5 linked regions of the Homo sapiens genome follow. The protein of the gene in region 4 interacts with the protein of the main gene of each other region in a pairwise test. Each region holds a gene or a part of one and is shown on either strand. Other genes may lie near its edges. The genes, in order: MLH3, DCC, TLR2, TMOD1 and FBXL17.

Evidence for each region.
Region 1: the proteins of TMOD1 (region 4) and MLH3 interact in a two-hybrid assay, tested with the Homo sapiens proteins (one large-scale study listed by BioGRID and IntAct).
Region 2: the proteins of TMOD1 (region 4) and DCC interact in a two-hybrid assay, tested with the Homo sapiens proteins (one large-scale study listed by BioGRID and IntAct).
Region 3: the proteins of TMOD1 (region 4) and TLR2 interact in a two-hybrid assay, tested with the Homo sapiens proteins (one large-scale study listed by BioGRID and IntAct).
Region 5: the proteins of TMOD1 (region 4) and FBXL17 interact in a two-hybrid assay, tested with the Homo sapiens proteins (one large-scale study listed by BioGRID).

Annotation. Positions count from the first base shown.
Region 1 is NC_000014.9:75,037,377-75,041,825, forward strand, and holds part of MLH3 (DNA mismatch repair protein Mlh3), read right to left. Parts: intron 4,325-4,449; coding exon 4,239-4,324; intron 2,649-4,238; coding exon of another isoform or gene 2,640-2,648; coding exon 2,535-2,639; intron 1,037-2,534; coding exon 964-1,036; intron 1-963. UniProt on the Homo sapiens protein: Probably involved in the repair of mismatches in DNA.
Region 2 is NC_000018.10:52,752,151-52,756,599, reverse strand, and holds part of DCC (netrin receptor DCC), read right to left. Parts: coding exon 4,226-4,449; intron 1-4,225. UniProt on the Homo sapiens protein: Receptor for netrin required for axon guidance. Mediates axon attraction of neuronal growth cones in the developing nervous system upon ligand binding. Its association with UNC5 proteins may trigger signaling for axon repulsion.
Region 3 is NC_000004.12:153,703,726-153,707,415, reverse strand, and holds the end of TLR2 (toll-like receptor 2 precursor), read right to left. Parts: coding exon 2,154-3,690; 3' UTR 1,156-2,153; downstream 1-1,155. UniProt on the Homo sapiens protein: Cooperates with LY96 to mediate the innate immune response to bacterial lipoproteins and other microbial cell wall components. Cooperates with TLR1 or TLR6 to mediate the innate immune response to bacterial lipoproteins or lipopeptides.
Region 4 is NC_000009.12:97,563,600-97,568,048, reverse strand, and holds part of TMOD1 (tropomodulin-1), read right to left. Parts: intron 4,012-4,449; coding exon 3,881-4,011; intron 2,202-3,880; coding exon 2,094-2,201; intron 1-2,093. UniProt on the Homo sapiens protein: Blocks the elongation and depolymerization of the actin filaments at the pointed end. The Tmod/TM complex contributes to the formation of the short actin protofilament, which in turn defines the geometry of the membrane skeleton.
Region 5 is NC_000005.10:107,878,223-107,882,671, forward strand, and holds part of FBXL17 (F-box/LRR-repeat protein 17), read right to left. Parts: intron 2,958-4,449; coding exon 2,815-2,957; coding exon of another isoform or gene 2,641-2,814; exon of another isoform or gene 1-2,640. UniProt on the Homo sapiens protein: Substrate-recognition component of the SCF(FBXL17) E3 ubiquitin ligase complex, a key component of a quality control pathway required to ensure functional dimerization of BTB domain-containing proteins (dimerization quality control, DQC).

The sequences.
Region 1 (4,449 bases), on a different chromosome or scaffold from region 4:
TATGTTTGTGTAATTATTTTTTTCTCTTGCATATATATCTTTTCTCATTATTGTATCCCTAGGGCCTGGTACAGTCCCTGGCATACAATGGGCACTCAATTAATACTTGTTGAATGAGTTAATATATTTACAAACTATTATTGTTTCATTAGAGCAGGTCACCAAGAGATTCTGTGTAAATATTGACAAACCTAGCAGAGTTCATTATATACACTTTCTATTATTATAAAGGGAAAACATGAAAATATTATTAAAAAGTCAAACAATAGAAAATATTTAAAAGAATAAAAGATGGGCTGGGCGTGGTGGCTTACACCTGTAATCCCAGCTGTTAGGGAGGCAGAGGTGGAAGGATAGCTTAAGCCCAGGAGTTCGAGACCTACCTGGGCAATATAGCGAGACCCCGTTCTCCACAAAAAGGAAAAAAAAAAGACAAAAAGAGTAAAAGTTGAAATATCTCCTTTGCACACCCTCATTTTCACTCCCAAAGTAAATACTCTTGATAGTTTAATGTGCATCCTGAGTATATGTATGTGTATGAACATAAAACTAAATGTCTGTCGCCCAGGCTGGAGTGTAATAGCGCAATCTCGGCTCACTACATCCTCTGCCTCCCAAGTTCAAGCGATTCTTGTGCCTTAGCCTCCTGAGTAGCTGGGACTACAGGTGCACACCACCATGCCCAGCTAATTTTTGTATTTTTAGTAGAGACGGGGTTTTGCCATGTTGCTCAGGCTGGTCCTGAACTCCTGGCCTCAAGCCATCCACCTGCCTCACCTCCCAAAGTGTTGGGATTACAGGTGTGAGCCACCGCACCCAGCCTTCATAATATTCTTAGTTTTAGATTGGCTTTCCCTAATCCATCCAAATCATTGAAACTATATTATATACCAAAAATAATCATTAAAAAAAGGTTACAAGAAGACCAGCTGGTTAATCATTCAGGCTAAACTCCATTCTTACCTGCCTCGCCATTCTCTTCAGTCTTAGTGCTCATCAAACAGGCAATAAACTTGTTATCTACTTGCTGGAGAACCTGTCAGACATTCAAATAAGTGGTACAACACTAAATAAAAATTAACAAAGGCTTATTTGCATAGAAAGATACAGAACTGTATTTTATTTAGAGTTGTTTGCCTTATCACACTCCTTTCTTTGAGACTGGGTAAGGTTCTGATGAACCAGAAAAAGTCACTAGGAAGGATGAAAGAATGGGCAGGTGGAGTTGATCAGAAGATGTAAGGGGAGGGAGGCGACAGGGGAAGACAGACTCCCACGTCTCAGAGTGGTGTGCTAGCAATACTTTAGAGAAGGCCTGAGATGTTCCCAACAGAGTGACTCTTGAGAATAGGTAATGTGACCAGAGATTGCTAACATACAGGCTGAAATAAATTTTTAAAATTTATATGAAAGCAAGGAAAACGATTATGGAGAAACTAGTCTATTTTTATTTTTATTTATTTTTAATTTTTTTTTTTTTGAGACGGAGTCTCACTTTGTCACCCAGGCTGGAGTGCAATGGTGTGATCTCGGCTCACTGCAAGCTCTGCCTCCTGGGTTCATGCCATTCTCCTGCCTCCATGCCATTCTCCTGCCTCAGCCTCCCGAGTAGCTGGGAGTACAGGTGCCCGCCACCACGCCCAGCTAATTTTTTGTATTTTTAGTAGAGACGGGGTTTCACCGTGTTAGCCAGGATGGTCTCGAACTCCTGACCTCATGATCCACCCACCTCGGCCTCCCAAAGTGCTGGGATTACAGGCGTGAGCCAGCGCGCCCGGCTGCTAGTCTATTAAAGAAGTAAGTTAAAAGCCACTGGTGGCTTTAGACCTTGGTGGTTCCTCTCTGTCTAGGTACTTGAGGCTCTCCAATACCCCCGAGCCTATACCACTGCCCCAGGGTCTATTTCTGGATCAACTGCTTGCCTGCTCTGGTACCAGGTCAATGCCAGGTTAGGAGTTTACCCAAATTTGTTAGCCTCCTAATTTGTTTCCGTACTGAAAACAAAGGGAATAAGACAGCCATGGTGGTAAACACAAGGCAAAATAGAAAAGCAGATCAGACAAAGGGTCCCTTTTGTGAAATGACTTCTCAATATGGGCTTTCCCAAACCTGTGTAGGCTCACACAATAGAAGGTAATTTCTAAAAGGGCACTGTTGCACACTTAAGGACAAGGTCACTAAAGGACTTTGATTTATAAATTATTGCCAAATATAAAGTCAATATATAATCTTCTGCAGGAGAACCTTGAGAATCCTTGAAACTGTCAGCCTGAATCCATAATTCATTCCCTCCAAACCTACTTACACTACTAAAGATATTTCTTTCTTTGTAATTATAATTAATCCCTTGCTTTTTCTTCTGATGATAAAAGTTCTAGTAAGAACACACACACACACACACACACACACACGTGCCTTGACCAAGGTGGTCTATATCATTAAATAAATCAAATTTTAGAAGAGTTAGGCCATATATATATATATATATATATATATATATATATATTTATGAGATTTTGAAGTTAATCTTTTACCTGCATTGAATGAATCATTCCTTTGGTGAAACGATAGGGATACAAGATGTTGTGAATTTTAACTGCTAAGCTCTCAGCCTGGCCACTGCTTACATCAACAGCAACCTAGAAAGACTCAGCAAAATATAATTGAAATTTTAATTTTTGTGTCAGAATTGTTTTACCAAAGATATCAGAGTGCTTTAAAAGCATTCATTTTTATTTAGCCTACTAGAGGTGGGTTTAATTCAGGGAATTTATAGAAATTCAAAAGAATCGGCCGGGCGTGGTGGCTCACACCTGTAATCTCAGCACTTTGGGAGGCTGAGGCGGGCAGATCACGAGGTCAGGAGATCGAGACCATCCTGGCTAACATGGTGAAACCCCATCTCTACTAAAAAATACAAAAAATTAGCTGGGCGTGGCGGCAGGCGCCTTTAGTCCCAGCTACTTGGGAGACTGAGGCAGGAGAATGGTGTGAACCCGGGAGGCGGAGCTTGCAGTGAGCTGAGATCACGCCACTGCACTTCAGCCTGGGCGACACAGCAAGACTCTGTCACAAAAAAAAAAAAAAAAAAAAAAAAAAAAAAAAAAATTCAAAAGAATTTATGAATAATGAGTCTTACATAAAAATTTTTGCTTATAAACAAAATTACTGACAAAACAAAAAAAATTGTTTCACAACAACAATTTGTCTATGTTCCATGATCAAGTCCTCAAATGATATCTTGAGGAAAGAACTGGTAAACAAATGCTCATCTATTATACACCCTGTTTATAACATGCACAGTACATTCTGTGAAAATACACTGAGGAGAGAACATCCATGCGGGGCCAATGAGGAACTGTTCCTCCAGTAGAAGATGTGTGGCTTTATCTAATGATAACAATTTCATTATCACCACCCTGAATACTGTGCCAAAGCTACAAGTCAGGGTTTCTGAGAGTGGTAAACACATTCACTGTTCTCACATTGATTATACATGTTTAATCCAAAATGCCTGAGTTCCCAAATGCTATAAATTTTATTTCTCCCCTCTACATTAAACAGTAATTTCCAAATACATAATTTGGAAATATGCCCAGTTTCCAATCATAATTACAAATTAATATAGTCTTGCATGCCCATACCCAGCTTAAATAAAATTCAAATTTTATTTTTAACTAATTTACTTATTTTTTAAGAGATGGAGTCTCACTGTGTTGCCCAGGCTATAGTGTGCAGTGGCTAGTCACAGGTGCAATCAGCACACTATATAGCCTTGAACTTCTGGCCTCAAGTGATCCTCCCACCTCAGCCTCCTGAGTAGCTGAGACTATAAGTGCATGCCACTGTACCCATCTTGAAACTCAAAGTTTAAAATAACAGGCAAAGAAAGGCTGGGCGTGATGGCTCACACCTGTAATCCCAGGACTTTGGGAGGCTGAGGCGGGCAGATCACCTGAGGTTGGGAGTTAGAGACCAGCCTGACCAATATGGAGAAACCCCATCTCTACTAAAAATACAAAATTCGCTGGGCGTGGTGGCAGGTGCCTGTAATCCCAGCTGCTCGAGAGACTGAGGCAGGAGAATTGCTTGAACCTGGGAAGCGAAGGTTACGTGAGCCGAGATCATGCCATTGCATTTCAGTCTGGGCAACAGGAGCAAAACTCCATCTCAAAATTTAAAAAATAAGAAGAAGAAGAAGAAAAAAAAAAGGCAAAGAAAAACTGCTACAGACCCACCTCTGGATAACGGGCAAATACTGGATTGTCCCATTCTGAGAACAAAGACTGAAGCGATTCGCTACTAACAGTATCATCCACAGTATCTAGGGCAAAAGGGAACAGGTAAAGTTGGCATCCAGAACCACAGGGAAAGGAGGGAATGGCATTTCCTGTTTGGTGAGCCATAGCCTCAAGACCAAAGGTCACGTACATTGTTTCTATGTTCTAC
Region 2 (4,449 bases), on a different chromosome or scaffold from region 4:
CCAAACAGTCAATTTTCTAATCACAAAGTTTTCAATAGTTAATTAATTTGTAGGCTATTGAGATATAAAGCAAATTATTCCAACTCAGTTTGTTAAGAGTATGTTTATGTATGCACATATATGGGTGAGTTTGATCTGCTGAAATCCAGTGAAGAAGGAGGAGGAGTAGAAGGGAGACAAAGAAGGAGAGGTAGAGAGGAGGATGGCAACAGCGGAAAGCTCTCTTTATATGGCATAAAGCCCCAGGTCTTCATTGGTAAGGCAAATGTCTACTATTAACATGACATACTTTGCTAGATACACAGTAGAGGGGATGGTAGGAAAGCTTCATAGATAAGTTCAGCGCTGCTTCCCTTCTTCAGCTGTTCTCAATCTAGAGGACTAAATAGAAGTATACATGGCACAGAAACACTGCAGCATTTTAGATTAGAGCTAATTGGATAAAAATAAAATTCCCAAATTTCAGCCAGTATGATGAAGTTGCTTTCAAATGGAGGCTTAATAGCCCAGGTATTCTTTACTGATAGAACTCAAAATGACTAGAAATACTGAGAGTCAGTAGCCTGTTACTTTGCAACTTTTAAGAAAATGTTGGATGGAATGATAGTTCTTCGTTTATCTTTCCTACTTTCCTTCCCTCTCCAGCCAAGTGTGCACTCAAGCCTTTAAGAGCACTTGAGAAGCTCCTAGAAAATAGGATGAATGGTGCATGGCAAGATCATTGTGTAAAATGTGCTGACTGATTAAAGACAGATTTCATTTGCTACACTTCTTTTTATCAAAAGACACTTTGAGAAAGCAAAAATGGAAGAGGGACATTATTTAATATGGGCTCTATACAGCACCTGAGAGTACAAAACATTTTTTTGTTGTTGTTGTTTTACCCAAGCAAAGCCTACTGTTACCATTTAGTGGTGACTGGTTTATTGAGTGCTAATGCTTTAAAACTGAGATTAAATCAGGTCCATGGTCTTTATTACTGGGAAGATATATGCCCCTTGTGAATTCTAGTGGTTTGGCAATCTTAACCTCAGCAGACATAACATTGATGTATTCTGTGTTGCCAAACAGCATGGTAAGTGTTTAAAATGCTGTGAACAGCCTTATTGCCTTGAAATGATACAATCTAATATGAGATTTTAACTCAGTGACTGAATCCGTGTGCCTATCCTTGTACAGAATACTAAAGTCCAAGCCACTGTATTTTAATATCTCACAGCGAAGGAACTCTTCTTCATTTCACTACTGAAAGACAGCACATGTAAATGTGAATGTAGATTGCATGAAGACTGAAACTGCAATGTAACAGGCCATTTTCATTAACAGTGCATAGGCAGCTGCCTTTCATAATAAGGCATCAAAATATCAGCCTGCTTCATTCAAATCAGCAGACCTCCTCTGGCCTTGTGGACAACTGATGGGTGGGATCTATGAGGCCAGAAATTCTCTAGTGACTGAAAGTCAAATTGTCCCCTTTCCACTTCATTTGGAGCATTCTGAGAAAGCTGCTTTTACCAAATCTGAAGGATTTATTCCACTTGTTTCTCCTAATCAATCATAATTAACATTAACATTCAGTTCTCTCTACACTTTATACTCATCAATCAAATTTCAGACACTCATCACTCCAAGGTTCCAGTTACTTTATAGCCTTGATTTTCACCATCAGGATGTCACCTGGCCTGTCTCCTGAGTAGAGGGGGTTTTCTGCATCTGCACCTCAGTCTGTCATTGCTAAAGCAGACCAGGGACACTTTGAGGTAGAGTGACCCACTGTCCTGGTTTTACCTGGCACTGAGGTGGCTTCCCAGGATATGGGACTTTCAAGTGCAAAAGCCAAGTCAGTCCAAAGAAAAGCAGAATGGCTAGCCAGTCTACCTCTAGGTAAAATCTGGCTTAACTGACTATGGAAAACTCTGCCTTCATCAGTTTGGGTGGCTATCACAAAGTATCTGGACTGGGTAGGCTGTAAACAACAGACATTGATTTCTCAAAGTTCTGGAGGCTGGAAATCTGAGATCAGGGTGCCAGCATGATTGGTTTCTGATGAGGGTCCTCTTCTGGGTTGCAGATTACAGACGTCTCATTGTATCCTCACATGGTGAAAGGAGCAGGGGTGTTCTGTGGTTACTTTTATAACGGCACTAATCACATTCATGAGGGCTCCACCCCATGATCTAATTATCTCTCAAAGGCTCCACCTCCCAGTGCTATCACATTGGGGGTTAGAATTTCAATATACACATTTTAGGGAGAAAAAACATTCAGTCTACAGAGTTCTTAGTGGAGAAAAGCTACAGAAGAGTGGTTTGAAGCTACATATGGGAATTAACCACATATCTATGAGATGTAATTCTTTATAGCACCACCTGACAAAATCACATCTTTCAGATTTCAACTTTCTCAGACCCTCACTAGGAGAGTGCATGAAGGAGTGGTGATTCTGCCCAATTGTCCTGTTATTGATGAAAATGAGTTATTCTGATCAGTCTTCCAAGATGAGACTAGACTAAGTAGGACCTGGGAAAGAAAACCCATAACAAATGACTAAACAGCCTATGATTCAATATTGTTTTTATTGAGAACTAAAGATTACGTTGAAAGCAGCCCTTCAAATCTGCTTACCCATTCATAACTTAAATTTATTTCAAGTTCAATCTGCTTGCCTTGCTTTATGGTCAATATAAAAGTTAAAAAAAAAGACAGGTTTTGGTCAAATCTTTATAGAAACAAGTAAAAAAACTGATTCTTCACTTTGCAGGTCTAACATTTCAGGGGCCAACAGAAATAATTATGAGCTGCCTTCTAACCAGAAGAGTGGGGCAGAAATAGCAATATCATGGGTTCCAGAATGGTCAGTACCATTTTTTCAGAGTCTACATGACTTCAGTGTATCCAGGTGAAAACAAAAACTGTTCATCTTATTACTCAGCTGTTGAGCCAACATGTTACCAAGCGTTAAGAAATTTGGAAGCACTAGAAGGAATTTTTATTTCTTACTTGACATGTATATGTTGTAGGCCATGCCACTATAATTAAAATAAAATTTACTCTTCTTAAGGCCCCACAACAAAAAAATGGACTCTGCAAAAGTTTAGCATTTAATGAAGCTGTAAAGTAAAATTAGCAAATTATATTTTCTAATATTTTTCTGTTAATGAGAAGTCCTCCCTTAGATATAAGTAGTAAGTCAACTTGAAACAGTTTTGTTTAAAAAAATAATCTCATAACTTTACGCAGCCAGTTGAGGTCCTATGACTGTTTTCTAAGATAATTTAAGGAGAAAGGTCAGTCAAATCCATGACAGAATAAACATGAATCTTTTTACATCTTTCCTTTTTCTTAAAAATGTGCGTTGTTGGTGAAAATGTAAATTAGATAGCCATTATGAAAAATGGTTATGTAGCTTTCTCAAAAAACTAAAATTAGAATTACCATATGATACAACAATCCTACTTATGGGTATATATCCAAAGGAATTGAAATGAGGGTATATAAGAGATATCTATACTCCATGTTAATTGCAGCATTATTCACAACAGCCAAGATGTGGAATCAATCACGAATGGGTAAAGAAAATATGAGATATATATATATATGTGTGTGTGTGTATATATGATATACATACACACACACAATGGAATACTATTCAGCCTTTAAAAAGAGTAAATCCTGTTATTTGTGATAACATAGATGAACCTACAGGATATTATGCTAAGGGAAACATGCCAGGCACTGAAAGAAAAATACTGCATGATCTCACTTACAGGTAGAATCTATTATAAAAAAGTCAGACTCATAGAACTAGAGAGCAGAATGGTTACCAGAGGCTTGGGAAGATGGGGCGTGGTAAGGAATGGAAAGATGTTTGTCAAAGGGCACAAGGTTTCAGTGAGAGAGAAGAAATAAGCTTTTAATATCTATTGCACAGCAACGTATATATCAAAATTGCTAAAAGAGTAGATTTTAAATGTTCTCACCACAGAAAAGAGAGAAGTATGTGGTGACAGATATGTTAATTAGCTTGATATAATCACTCCACGATGTATACATACATCAAAACATGACATTGTACTTCATAAAAATATATAATTACTTGTCAACTTAAAATTTAAAAGATTTTTAAAATGTACATTATTTCTACAAAAATTATTTTCTCATCCCCAAAAATGAATAAGAAGAAGAGAGGAAGGAGGAGGAGGAAGAGAAGGAAGAATCCACCTACCTGCTACTGCAACTTTTGCTGTCCGACTAATAATTGAGCCAGAATCTCCTAAAGATGCCTCACATTGGTAAAGTCCCTCATCTGGCTTGTGGTGTCTGGAATGAAGTATGTTTTGTATCAGCAGAGACCCATTTGAAAGTTGCTGCTTCCTTTCATCCATTCCCAAGGCCAGATGAATGCCATCTTTCTTCCACTTGATCACTGGAACTCCTCGGTCGGACTCC
Region 3 (3,690 bases), on a different chromosome or scaffold from region 4:
ACCATGCCCTGCTAATATTTTGTATTTTTTGGTAGAGACAGGGTTTTGCCATGTTTCCCAGGCTGGTCTCCAACTCCTGGACTCAAGCAATCCTCCTGCCTTAGCCTCCCAAAGTGCTGGGATTACACCAAGCCTGATTTTTTTTAAGGCTGGCTACCGTTTCCTCCATAACACTCTTCTGGGAGGTCGTGTGAAACAGCAGCAGCCCTATGCGAGTTCCCCAAGGACAAGCTTGTTCTGCAGTTAATGAGCATATATTTCTTTGTGGTATTTTTCTGCAAACAGCAGGATCCCTTATATCCCTGCTAGTATCCATAACAGAAAAATATCCACTTACAAGCCATAATATATAAGGGAATGAAATATCTTCTTGGAAAATAATAATAATAGCTAACATCTACTACAGACATCACCCTCACCCCACACACGAACCCATAGTGCCCATTCTCTTAGGCGTGGTACTCTTGCCCTCAACACCCCTCCAGAGAAAATGGGAATCAAGGAGCTTAGGCTCATGGTTTACTTACATTCCTACATTTCATACTCTCAGTATCTTAGGATATAGAGATCATCATCCCTATTTTAAAGACAGAAAAACTTTTTGGGTCATGTCAACTGACTTGCCAAAGATTACACATCTACTAACCCAGGTCTTTCTGACTCTAGTGCCCAATTAACCACATACACCCAGTTCTGGTTGAGAATTGAGCAGGGGTCAAAGGCTCACTTCCTTTCACATGGTTCCCAGCTTAAGAAAGTTACATAGAATCAGCAAATAGTGCTTACCAAAGAAAGTTGCATCAAAATTTAATGTGTGGTATTATTATACCTAGATTGCAAAATTAACATATGGTAGTAGTATCTACCTTTAAATTACTGTGTATCAAACTATTTTTGAGTCATTATGAGGAAACTCTAGGTATATATTTGCTTAAAAATCTATTTAGCTCACATGTACTTTTTAAAATATTCAGAAGGGGAAAAAGGGCAGGCTTTTTTAGAATTAAAAACAAGACTTTTCGAAGAAGGAAAAAGCAACAAGATGCAGGAGATATAGGCTAAAAAACAGGAACTGAGAGTCAGAGTGATTGGACAATAACTAGAACTCAAAAGGTAGTTAGAGGCTGAGGAAGACCAGAGTCCGGATGTGGGAAGTGTCTTTCAAATTCTCCTAAACTGAGTATTTATTTTGTTAAATTACAGAAATACATAATTTACTGTACCTTGCACTGTGTACTCACTCTCTCAAGTAACTATGGCTGGAGAAACCTATCTAATAGCCAGAAAGACAGATCCAGATCACATGAAAATACACCCTCTAGTATTTCTCATCCTGTAAAGTTTAATAGGAAATACACAGCACTTTTTTCTAGGAATAGCAACAAGTTTTGGGGAGTGCCCCAAATACTTTGCCTTGTTGCTCTTGAGATCAGCTGCACAGAGAAGTGACAGCTAGGTAGGACAGAGAATGCCTTTTGTGGCCACAGAGGAGTCTCTTAGCAGGAAGAAAGAATGACACAGTCATTGAGAATCTTAAGTTCATTTGTGCTGTTTCCTAATGAACTAAGCCAGTTGCTACAGATTACAGTTGGCCCTCTATATCCATGGGTTCTGCATCCATGAAGTCAACCAACTGTGGATCAAAAGTATGTTTTAAAAATTTTGAAAATAAAAAATAACAATAATAATATAAATAAAAAGACAGTACAACTATTTACATAGTATTTACATTGTATTGGGTATCATAAGTAATCTAGAGATGATTTAAAGTATACAGGAGAATGTACACAGGTTATATGCAAATACTATGCCACTCTTATAAGGGACTTGATCATCTATGAATTTTGATATCCACGAGGATCCTGCAACCAATTCCCTTGGATACCAAGGGACTATATTCAGATATCAGTAATAGACTTATGATCATGGTTATCTCATAGAAAAAAGAAAAACCAAAAACCAATTTTTAAATCTGGCATATGTTTATAAAACAGCACCCCAGACAAAATTTGAAGTTTTGTAGTTTTAGTAAGCAAGTCCTCAAATGACGGTACATCCACGTAGTTTTTATATAATTATGTCTGAATGAACTTAACTATAACTAGTGACATAAAGATCCCAACTAGACAAAGACTGGTCTTAAATATGGGAACCTAGGACTTTATCGCAGCTCTCAGATTTACCCAAAATCCTTCCCGCTGAGCCTCGTCCATGGGCCACTCCAGGTAGGTCTTGGTGTTCATTATCTTCCGCAGCTTGCAGAAGCGCTGGGGAATGGCTTTTTTCTCAATGGGCTCCAGAAGAATGAGAATGGCAGCATCATTGTTCTCATCAAAAAGACGGAAATGGGAGAAGTCCAGTTCATACTTGCACCACTCACTCTTCACAAAGTTTTCAGAAAGCACAAAGACAGTTTTGTGGCTCTTTTCAATGGAGTCAATGATATTGTCAATGATCCACTTGCCAGGAATGAAGTCCCGCTTATGAAGACACAACTTGAAGGGGGGATTGAAGTTCTCCAGCTCCTGGACCATAAGGTTCTCCACCCAGTAGGCATCCCGCTCACTGTAAGAAACAAATGCATCATAGCAGATGTTCCTGCTGGGAGCTTTCCTGGGCTTCCTTTTGGCCTGGAGCCAGGCCCACATCATTTTCATATACCACAGGCCATGGAAACGGTGGCACAGGACCCCCGTGAGCAGGATCAGCAGGAACAGAGCACAGCACATGCCAGACACCAGTGCTGTCCTGTGACATTCCGACACCGAGAGGCGGACATCCTGAACCTGCTGGCCACGCACATGGGATGGAGAGTCACACAGGTAATTTGCTGGCCAATCAATCAAGACTTTGGCCAGTGCTTGCTGCTCCTGAGTGAAGGAGAGGAATTCACAGGAGCAAATGAAGTTATTGCCACCAGCTTCCAAAGTCTTCAGTGTGTGAAATGAGTCAAGTTGCTCCTTAGAAAACGTAGTTATTGCATTCCTACTGATTTTCAATACTAGTAACATGGGTAAGAGGGAGGCATCTGGTAGAGTCATCAACTTATTTCTGGAAATATAAAGTTCTTTGAGTTGCGGCAAATTCAAAGAAAATAAATTGAGATTGTTGTTGCTAACATCTAAAATTTCCAGTGTCTTGGGAATGCAGCCTGTTACACTGTGTATTCGTGTGCTGGATAAGTTCAAATATTTCATCTTTTCTGGCCACTGACAAGTTTCAGGCATAGAATGAAAACTATTCTTACTGATATCAATGTTAGTCAAGTTTTTCAGAGTGAGCAAAGTCTCTCCGGTTTTTTCCAATGATGCCAAATGATTTTGCCTTAAAATTAAAGTTTGTAGAGAGGGCCAGGCATCCTCACAGGCTGAATTTTTCAAGTATTCTTCAACCATCAAATTTTCACTGAGATCCAAGTATTCTAATGATTTTAAATGTTGTGAAAGTAAACAAGGAACCAGAAAAACTTTACTGTTTTCTACTGTGATTCTTTTAACTCTTTCTGTAAGTGAATATAAAGTGCTCAGATCATAAAATAAGTAAAACCTTGGAATATGCAGCCTCCGGATTGTTAACGTTTCCACTTTACCTGGATCTATAACTCTGTCATTATCAGATGCTCTAAAATTACCAACTCCATTAAGGGTACAGTCATCAAACTCTAATTCTAACAATCCAGAAATCTGATTC
Region 4 (4,449 bases):
CCTAGCACGTTTCAGAGGAACTCAGCCAGGGGGTGTAGATGACAATCAGAGCCTCTGAAGGAAATGAGATAATTAGCAGTTGGTGGAAACGATGCGTCATGGAGGGAAAAAGACACCAGCAGCTGATAGGACATACTGATCGGTGGGCCCTGCTGCCTAAAATGATGCTCCGAGCCAGGAATACCTACCCCGTCGCCCCTGCCTTGCTGAGACCTGCTGAGAGGCTAGCTCCCAGGAAGCCCTCTGTTTTGAAATCATCGCCCCCTCCTCAGTGCCCTTCACTTCAGTGTGCCCCCGGGATGGCATGTCAGCTTTCTCTATGATGGCGTCTGTCTCTGACTTGGCTGGCCCTCCTGAGGGAAAGGACCCAGCCAGAGTCCTCTCTGTGTCTTCCACCAGAACCTTCCTGCTCCCAGGAAAGGCCTGGCCTGGCTTAATCAAATCTAATAAAAAAAATCAAAATAACAACCAGTAGGCAACCTGCTAGGCTGATCCAACTGGACATGCTGGTGGCTGAGCAGGTCCTGGAGGCCCTGTCTTGCCAGGTGTTAACTCCTTGTATGCTGGGTCCCAGTGGAGGAACCGGGGCCAGGAGAAAAGCTAGGGCAGGCGGTGGGGGCCCTGACAGAGCTCTGGCAGCCTGATTTACCAACTGGCCCAGAAGCATCTCAGTGTTTGACACGGGCATACTGGTGTGCATAGGCTGATATCAGCTGTTGGTCTGGCAGAGTCCATGCCCAAAAAACATTTGTGGACCTGAGCTGAGGGCCAGAATGGATGTGCTTGGTTTCTGACCCATGACATAGTAGCATACAGGGCATGTGGCTTTGCCAGCTGTGTTCCTATGGGCAAGGAACCATGGAGATCTGAGGTCAGAGGTCATCAATCCAGAGGTTCCCCACTGACAGCAATGAGAGACTGTGAGCTATTTCTATTATTTCAAAAATATGAAAGAACACTGTCTTACCTATTTTAAGAATCAGAAAAAAATCGATTGCTACTAAATGGTTAATTACTAGCCCTGATAAACTAGCTTCTGCCCTTCTTGCAGGAATCTAGCTTTGCAGTAATTGCACTGTACTGTTACCCTTTAGTTGTCTGCTTGGCCAAATGGACCAGAATCTTTATGAAAGTGGAAGCTGAGACTGGTCACAATTGTATTCCCAGAACCTAATTCAGCGTTGGGCACAGAGAGACTCTCAATACATATGTGCTGGATGTTTAAAAAGAAGAGTTGATGGCTACTTCAGAGTAAGTACAATTTAATTTGATCAGAAATATCTTTTGAGACTTATAAAATAAAATTGGTCATTGGGACCTGCTGATGAAACCATCATTTTTATTTTTTTAAATTTTTATTTATTTATTTATTTATTTTGTGATGGAGCCTCGCTCTGTCGCCCAAGCTGGAGTATAGTGGTGCAATCTCGGCTCACTACAACCTCCGCCTCCTGGGCTCAAGTGCTTCTCCTGCTTCAGCCTCCCGAGTAGCTGGGATTACAGGCATGCACCACCAAGCCCAGGTAATTTTTATACTTTTAGTAGAGACGGGGTTTCACCATGTTGGCCAGGCTGGTCTCGAACTTCTGACCTCAAGTGATCCACCCGTCTTGACCTCCCAAAGTGCTGGAATTGCAGGTGTGAGCCACTGCGCCCAACCAAAACCATTGATTTTAGAGATGGAAAAACTGAGGAACAGGGAAGGGCAGGCTCTTGTTCTAATATGATGTGCCGAGTGAAGATTTAGGGGTCACGTGACTGCACTGGACTTGCAGGTCCACCTCTCACTTGCTGTGTGACTGGACAAAACAAGTTGCCTGACCTCTCCGAACCCTAGATTTTTTAAGTGCAAAGTGGGGAGAACTGCACATCTGAGACCAGAAGTGGGTGTGAGGATTGGCCAGGATGACGTGTAGGTGGTGCCAGGTGATGGCTGTTCCCTCTACACCCCTCATGGCTCCTGGTCCAATGCCTTCCACTGTACCACATAGAGCTCTTTGTTAGTGGGATACAACCAGTCCTGAGGCCACATATTTCAACCCTTCTGTTTCAAGGCCCCCAGCCACAATGCAACAGAACAGAAAGGTACATACATACGCCACGGGGTCATTACTCCGTGTCCCCACGATGCTGAACTTCTTCACATATGAGTTTTCTTTCAGGGCTTCTGCATATGCCTTGAGGGTGGGGATGGGGATATTCTGCACAAAGAAAGGCAACAGAGAGAGTGACCAGAAGCCTCCTCTGGGACAGGCTGAGGCAGGTGGATTAGCCTGGCTACTCTCTGATTCCTGGCAAGTCTCTGGCCAAAAAGCTGAATGGGCAAAAGGTTTAGGCTTTGTCCCGGACGACTGAAATCTGGGGAGAACTTTCTGGTAAACAGATTTAGAAAATCCTCCCTGAAAATTTCAGATAAGACCTGTAACCTCTTTCTTTGTGCACTTGGGGGCCAGAGAAGAGGCAAAAATTAAGGCGTGTAGTATTGTGCAAAGAGCTAGGACTAGGGGTGTGAGAGGGGCTGGAACCTGGCCTTGGTCCCAATGATCGGCAATGTTCCTGACTTGCTAGGTGTCTCTGTGGAAGCCTCCTGCCCTCTCTGGCCCTGTTTCTGGAAAACAGGTAAGGGGGTTGCATATGATACTCTTTAAGAGACATCTACCCCAGGGGGTCTCTGCTCCAGCGGCACATCAGAGACTCCTGGGGAACTTTTACAAAATGGTGATGCTTGGGCCGGCCCAGAACAATAGAATCAGAATCTCTAGGGTCAGGCCTGGGCGTTGGTATATATTTTTTAATCTTCTCAGGTGAAAACCACTGATCTGGTCCAACAGGCTCACAGTGCAGAGGAGAAACTGAGGCCCAGAGGAGGCTGGGGCCTCACAGGGAGATTCCATCCCTCATGTGGCCCTGAGGCAGCATTCACTGCCAGTGGGCAGCATTCTGAATTGTGCCAATGTCTCCTACTGGGCACATGAAAGAAAACATGGCTGTGTTTTTACCAATCTCTCAGAGCGTCACTTTAGCTCCCATGGGAGCAGAGCATGGGGAGGCCAGGTGGGGGTGAACACTAGGGTGCAGGTTTCCAATCTGATGGTGCCGTGGGGCTGGCAGCTGCTTAAAATAAAGTGGAGAAGGAAAGAAAGTGGAGCAGGGGCATGGGGGGCTGGCTTCTAGTCTTACCCCCACCCCCCTCCCAGAACTAATCCACTGGTCTCTGGGCTCAGCAGGTGGGTAGAAAGCTGCATTTGTCTCTGAATTCTTCCTGCGGCGGCCTGTTCAGGGTGAGACTGCCTGTCCACCTGTCCCTCCCCTGCCCCGGGATCACATAAGGAAATGTGCACAGAGAAAAGGGCAGACAGCTTGGGATATCGCTTTGGACATTTTGGCCAACAGCTCCCTTCTGTGGCTGTAAAACAAGGCTGAATATGAACGTGATATAGCAGCAGCGATGGCACAGGGGAGGGGCCTGCCCAGGGCCTGTGTTACCCCCGAGCCTAGTGGGCACCGGACTTTTCCAGCCTTGAGATCCCATGCAGCAGCGTGTGTCTGACTCATGATTTTATCTCGGAGAATCTCTCAGTGTTTTGAATAACGTGGCAGGTTTCCAGATCAAAGCTGGGTTGGCCCGTGCTAAACATCTGGGCCTGATATCATCCTCAGAAAGAAACCAGGACTGCCAGATGCACTTGTTTACACTGCCCACCCCTCTTAAAGGCTCCCATTTGCAAAGGTTTTGTCCCTATTCCCAATGCAGAAACACCCAGAATCCAAACAGGACCCTGTTTACTCTGCACAACCAACCCTGGACCGTTTGCATTTGGGTGACATGGTTCCCCCTCCCCCAGCCACACACAGGTAAAGTGAAATAAATGGACCTTACCCGGATATTATTGAGGTTAACTTCTTCAAGTTTTGGGTCGTTGTTCTTTATCCGTTCCAGCGTTTCCTCTACGTCTGTTGAATTTGGTTCTTCGTCGGGCACAGGCTTGTATTGTGTGGGTTTAATCACGCCTAGAGTGACCGATGAAAGGGAGGTGGCTCACAGAAACAAGGGGCTCACTTTCTGCCAACACAAAGATACTGTGGAAGGGAGCATGTGCAGGGTTGGGGCACGTGAGGGCTGCACATCACAGGGGCTGGGTGGGGGTAGGGGGCACCACTCAGAAGAAGCCCCGCAAGGGAGCCAGGAGGCTGGGGTTCTACTTGGACTCTGCCTTTGACGTCCTGCAAGAACTGGGTGAATTACTTAAACTCTCTGAACCTTGGGTCTACATCTGTAAGGCAGGGCTAGTCATTTTCCCGGGGCTCATGACCTCAGTGGACTCTTGGGAGGCTAAGATGAAGCCCGGATGGGAAAGAAATGCATCAATCTTCCAGAGGGAGGAATAATTATTTTTTTTGGCAGCCTCATTTCTGTTTGGGGCCAAAATGCCAGCTTTGGAACAATGC
Region 5 (4,449 bases), on a different chromosome or scaffold from region 4:
TAGTCTGAATTTATTTTTTTCCTTTCTTTTTAATTGTCTTTCAAAATGGGATAGTAGGCAATATAATTTTTTTTTCTCATTGGAAAATTCCAGTATCACAACACAGGTTAATATAATGATATGGATGATAAGACTAATCAGTAACAGAGCATTTTATATATAATAGACATTATTCTAAGTGCTTTATGTATGTTAACTCATTCACATGCTCACAATTCTACAAGATAGGTACTAGTATCATCCTCATTTTGCAAACGAGGGAACAGGCACTGAGAGGTTAGTAACTGCCCGCGGTGACACAACTAGTAAGTGCAAAGCCCAGATCTGAACCTGAACTCTGGCTCTCCGCAGACCATACCGTTGCTACTAATTTCTTTTCTTTGTTACTCATATCTTCCTTTGAATCTTGATGGTAACTTAAAATCTGGAGATGGATGGCATGATACAAAATCTGAAAACTGAATAGCTACTTTAGATTTCCATCCAACTAAACCAACAAGCAGGCTTTTCTGTGCAAGGCTTTACTTGTGCTTTGTGTGTGGTTTGGAACTGTCTTCCATCCTCACAGAGCCTCTCGTGTTTGGCTCTGAGCTGCTTTAAGTCTGAGGAAGCCAGACAGCAAGGCTGGGTCCAGCATCTCCCTGGGCTGCACTGCAGCAGGCTCTGACCAGACGGCGTCGTGCTGGAGCCAATGGGTTCTCAGAGTGGCTCTCTGGTTAGAGAAAGGATTCAGAGGCAGCCCAGGAAAAGGGCTAAAACCCTCAGGGATACAGCTAATCTGAATACTGTCTCTATTTAATTTTGGACTAATTTGCATTTGGGTAGAAAATAACCCATTTCTTAACTAAAAATCAGCAAAATGCTGGTCAGCAAATATGTCTGGAATAACATTCTCCTGTAGTAACTGTAACATACAACTTCTACAGTGTATCTCCGAAGATGGAGCTGATCTTAACCATCTAAAGATTACAGGTTAGAAATATGACAATTTCTGAGAATGGCTGCGGACACATATGTATGAATGTGTACATTTTGGTAGCTTTAGTTAGCATTCATGTGGCAGTTCCTTCTGCTGGAAGCTGAGGAGTTCTGCTGTCATTGATTCCTGTTTCTAGAGGACTATGCCTATGGTGGACCCTTTAACTTGTCTTAAAAGAAGTCATTTTAAAGTGGCAGGGTTAGCAGCGGCATTAGGTTGGTTAGTGGAAAGATTTGTGGGAGACTCGCAAGCCCCGGATCTCAGTGCTGTTGCTTAGTTACAAAGTAAGTCGCTTCTGGGCTGGGCTGAGAATATATAATAACATTTCTCTAAACATAACTAGCTGGCAAAGGTCTCGTATAAGTTGGGATTCTAAAGTGTTTGGAGAAAAGAATTAGCCAATTAACAAAAAATCACAAAGGACACAAGAGCTTTGGGCCATACTTCATTTGCCCCCACATTTGCTACATTTAGAAGATGCATGCCCTTTGAATGGCGTGTCTATTTAGTTTCACATTATTTTGCTAGATTTGTTCCTAATCACCATTTACAAAAGTAGCACACATGTGTAAATTAGTACAAGATGGCGGCACTTTCTGAGCAAGTATCTGAACTGGACCTTTTCCAAGGGAAGCAGTCCCCGTGGCCACAGACTGCCCCCTGGGTTGTGCCAGCAGCACTGGATACAGACTCCAAAGACCCGGCATGAAGTCTTGCCAGAGTATCCTGGGGCCACTGACTGGTCTTTCTGAGCCTCCATTTTCTCCCCTTCACAATGCAAATAACTATTTCTTAGACTTGTTATAGGTAAAACATGGAATAAACAAAGAAGAAAACACCTGTGGAGTGCCTGGTGTCCAGTATAGGTTTTTTTTGTTTGTTTGGGACACAGTCGTGCTCCGTCATCCAGGCTGAGGTGGTTGCGGCACAATCACGGCTCACTGCAACCTCGGCCTCTTGAGCTCAGGTGATCCTCCCACCTTAGCTTCCCGAGTAGCTGGGACTACAGGTGTGTGCCATTATGCCTGGCTAATTTTTTTTTGTTGGGGGAGAGGGGGATAGAGACAGGGTTTTCCCATGTTGTCCAGGCTGGTCTCAAATTCCTGGGCTCAAGTGATCCTTCTGCCTTGGCCTCCCAATGTGCTGGGATTACAGGTGTCAGTATAGATTTTTATTATCTGTTTTCTCAGTCTTCAAAGGGTCCCACGTTAAATGCTACACCATTTCCTAAACTCATGCTCACATCCCTGGCTGGTTCTACAGGCCTTCCACCAGGACCTCTGGAACCACTTCTTATCATGTGCTGGGAGTGGCATCTGATGTATGGGGAGATGCAAATTCCCACATACCCCCTTACTGGCCCTTTGTTGGTCCCGAATGGCCAGAATACATAGATGTTCAGTACCAAAATTACACACTTGTGAAAAACCAATTTGGCACTGTTCTTTCCACCTTTACTGTTGCTGGAAACTTGAAACCCAGAATACAATTTTACGGTTAGACCCTGCAAATTGCAGTTTGTCATGTAATCTTTTACATTTTGGTCCATGGACTTATGAATAGGATGCCAAACTCTAGTTGACTATGTATATGATTACTTTTTCTTTCTACTTAAGCACAAAATTCATTATTAAGTGGGGAAATACAAAGATAATCTCAGATTAGTTTACAAAAGCAGGCAAACAATGCATAGCTATAATTGCATATATACATATAAAATGTATATATAATATATAATACACGGGGGTGGAGATAGAGAAGGAGAGAGGATATGACATCAAGCTATTAACTATACTGATATGTAGAAAGCAAACAACTTGATAGTCAACTCTTACTTTATCACATCTCATCAGCCCCAAATATCTCAGAGACTTGCTGCTCTGTGCAATCAGGGTGGCTCCTTGGTCTGTGATTTCTTTACACCATCCGACATCCACAGTCTCTATTGTCATGCTGTATCGCCCAATGGCTATCAGTGCTGCAAGAAGGGACGCAGAGAAAGCATTAATGTTAGCAGTGTAAGGGAGCTCTATCTTATTATGACTATTCATCTCATTTCCTCACTAAATTTGTTCCTGAAATTTTGTGTGTAAATGAACGTTTTATAAACTAAACTAAATTTGAAATGCTTTAGGAAAGCTTCCCTATGACAAACCCATTTGCAAAGTGAATAATCATTCCATAATTTCCCTTTCATTGAACACAACCTTTTATCAGTTTTATTCATTACAAGGTTACCTGTACTTTCAAACATTCAGCTCTGCAGAAGGAATAAATTAAAATGTATTACAGATACAACATTTAAAAAAACCCAAGTACTAACTTAATTTTACCCAAGATAACTTTAATTTTTTTTTAAAGAAGAACCCACGTAAACACCATTTTGAGGAGTGTTATACTGCAAGTGAATGTCTTTACCAATTGGCATAATTTTTTCCATCTGTTCATGACCTGTAAAATGTAAAAGTATAAAATATTTTTCACATTAGCGCTTCTTGGGACTGTTAGGAATTAAGAGTACATCATACATACTGCTGATTTTAATTGGTGCCATGCTAGAGTGCAGTAAACAGAATGCATTTGTTATGGTGAATTTCCTCATCCTATCAGAAGTCTTCCTTCTATTAACATACAAAATGAAGCCTGTCGTCTGTAAACTATGAGAGTATCTGTAGTCTTCTCGGCTGTTTAGCATTGTACCACCACTAAAGTGCAGACACTTATCCCATAATCTATGATGTGCACTACTAATCACTGCAAAGTCCCATAACCCATCACCCCATCACAGCGACCAAGTGGTGAATGTGGCTCTTTTCTACCGACTTTGATAAATGTGCCCACCTTTATATTTAAGGAGCCCAGAAAACAAATTTCAATACCCCAGCACCAGTTTATGGTGCACTGGTTTGTGAATCAAAACCCTGAAAACAGTGCCACAAATATCAAAAAGAAAAGAGAAATGGTTTTCTGATAATTTCCTCATTCTAAGATAGCATAAGTTGATTTCTGTGACAATAAAGGTGAATGATAGTTCCCAAAATGTGTTGACTAGATGGATAATTTAGAGTTAAGTACTCATGTTAACAAATGTTTACTCCTACAGCTCACAGAAGAGAATATTTGGCAAAATCTTTCTTTGCTAATTACCTCAGTATTTTTTTTTTTTACTAGAAAACTCATGTCCGTACATTCCAGTAGGAAAGCACTCCCAAGTAGCCAGATATTTAATGTTTATAAAAACAACAATCATGATCCCAGTGTTTTCCAGTGAAAATACAATAGAGAGACAATTTTTTTAAAAAAAGTTCTCTATGTACCAGTTTGTTAATGTTTTCATCTTTGTGCATGCTGTTTTGATATTTAAAGTTTTCCAAGGGGTTTGGGGGATTTGCCAACTACTAAAAGTTTGCAGAAATGGTCTGAATACTATTTTTGTATAGAAGGAGCAACATCCCAGGTTAATTTTGGTG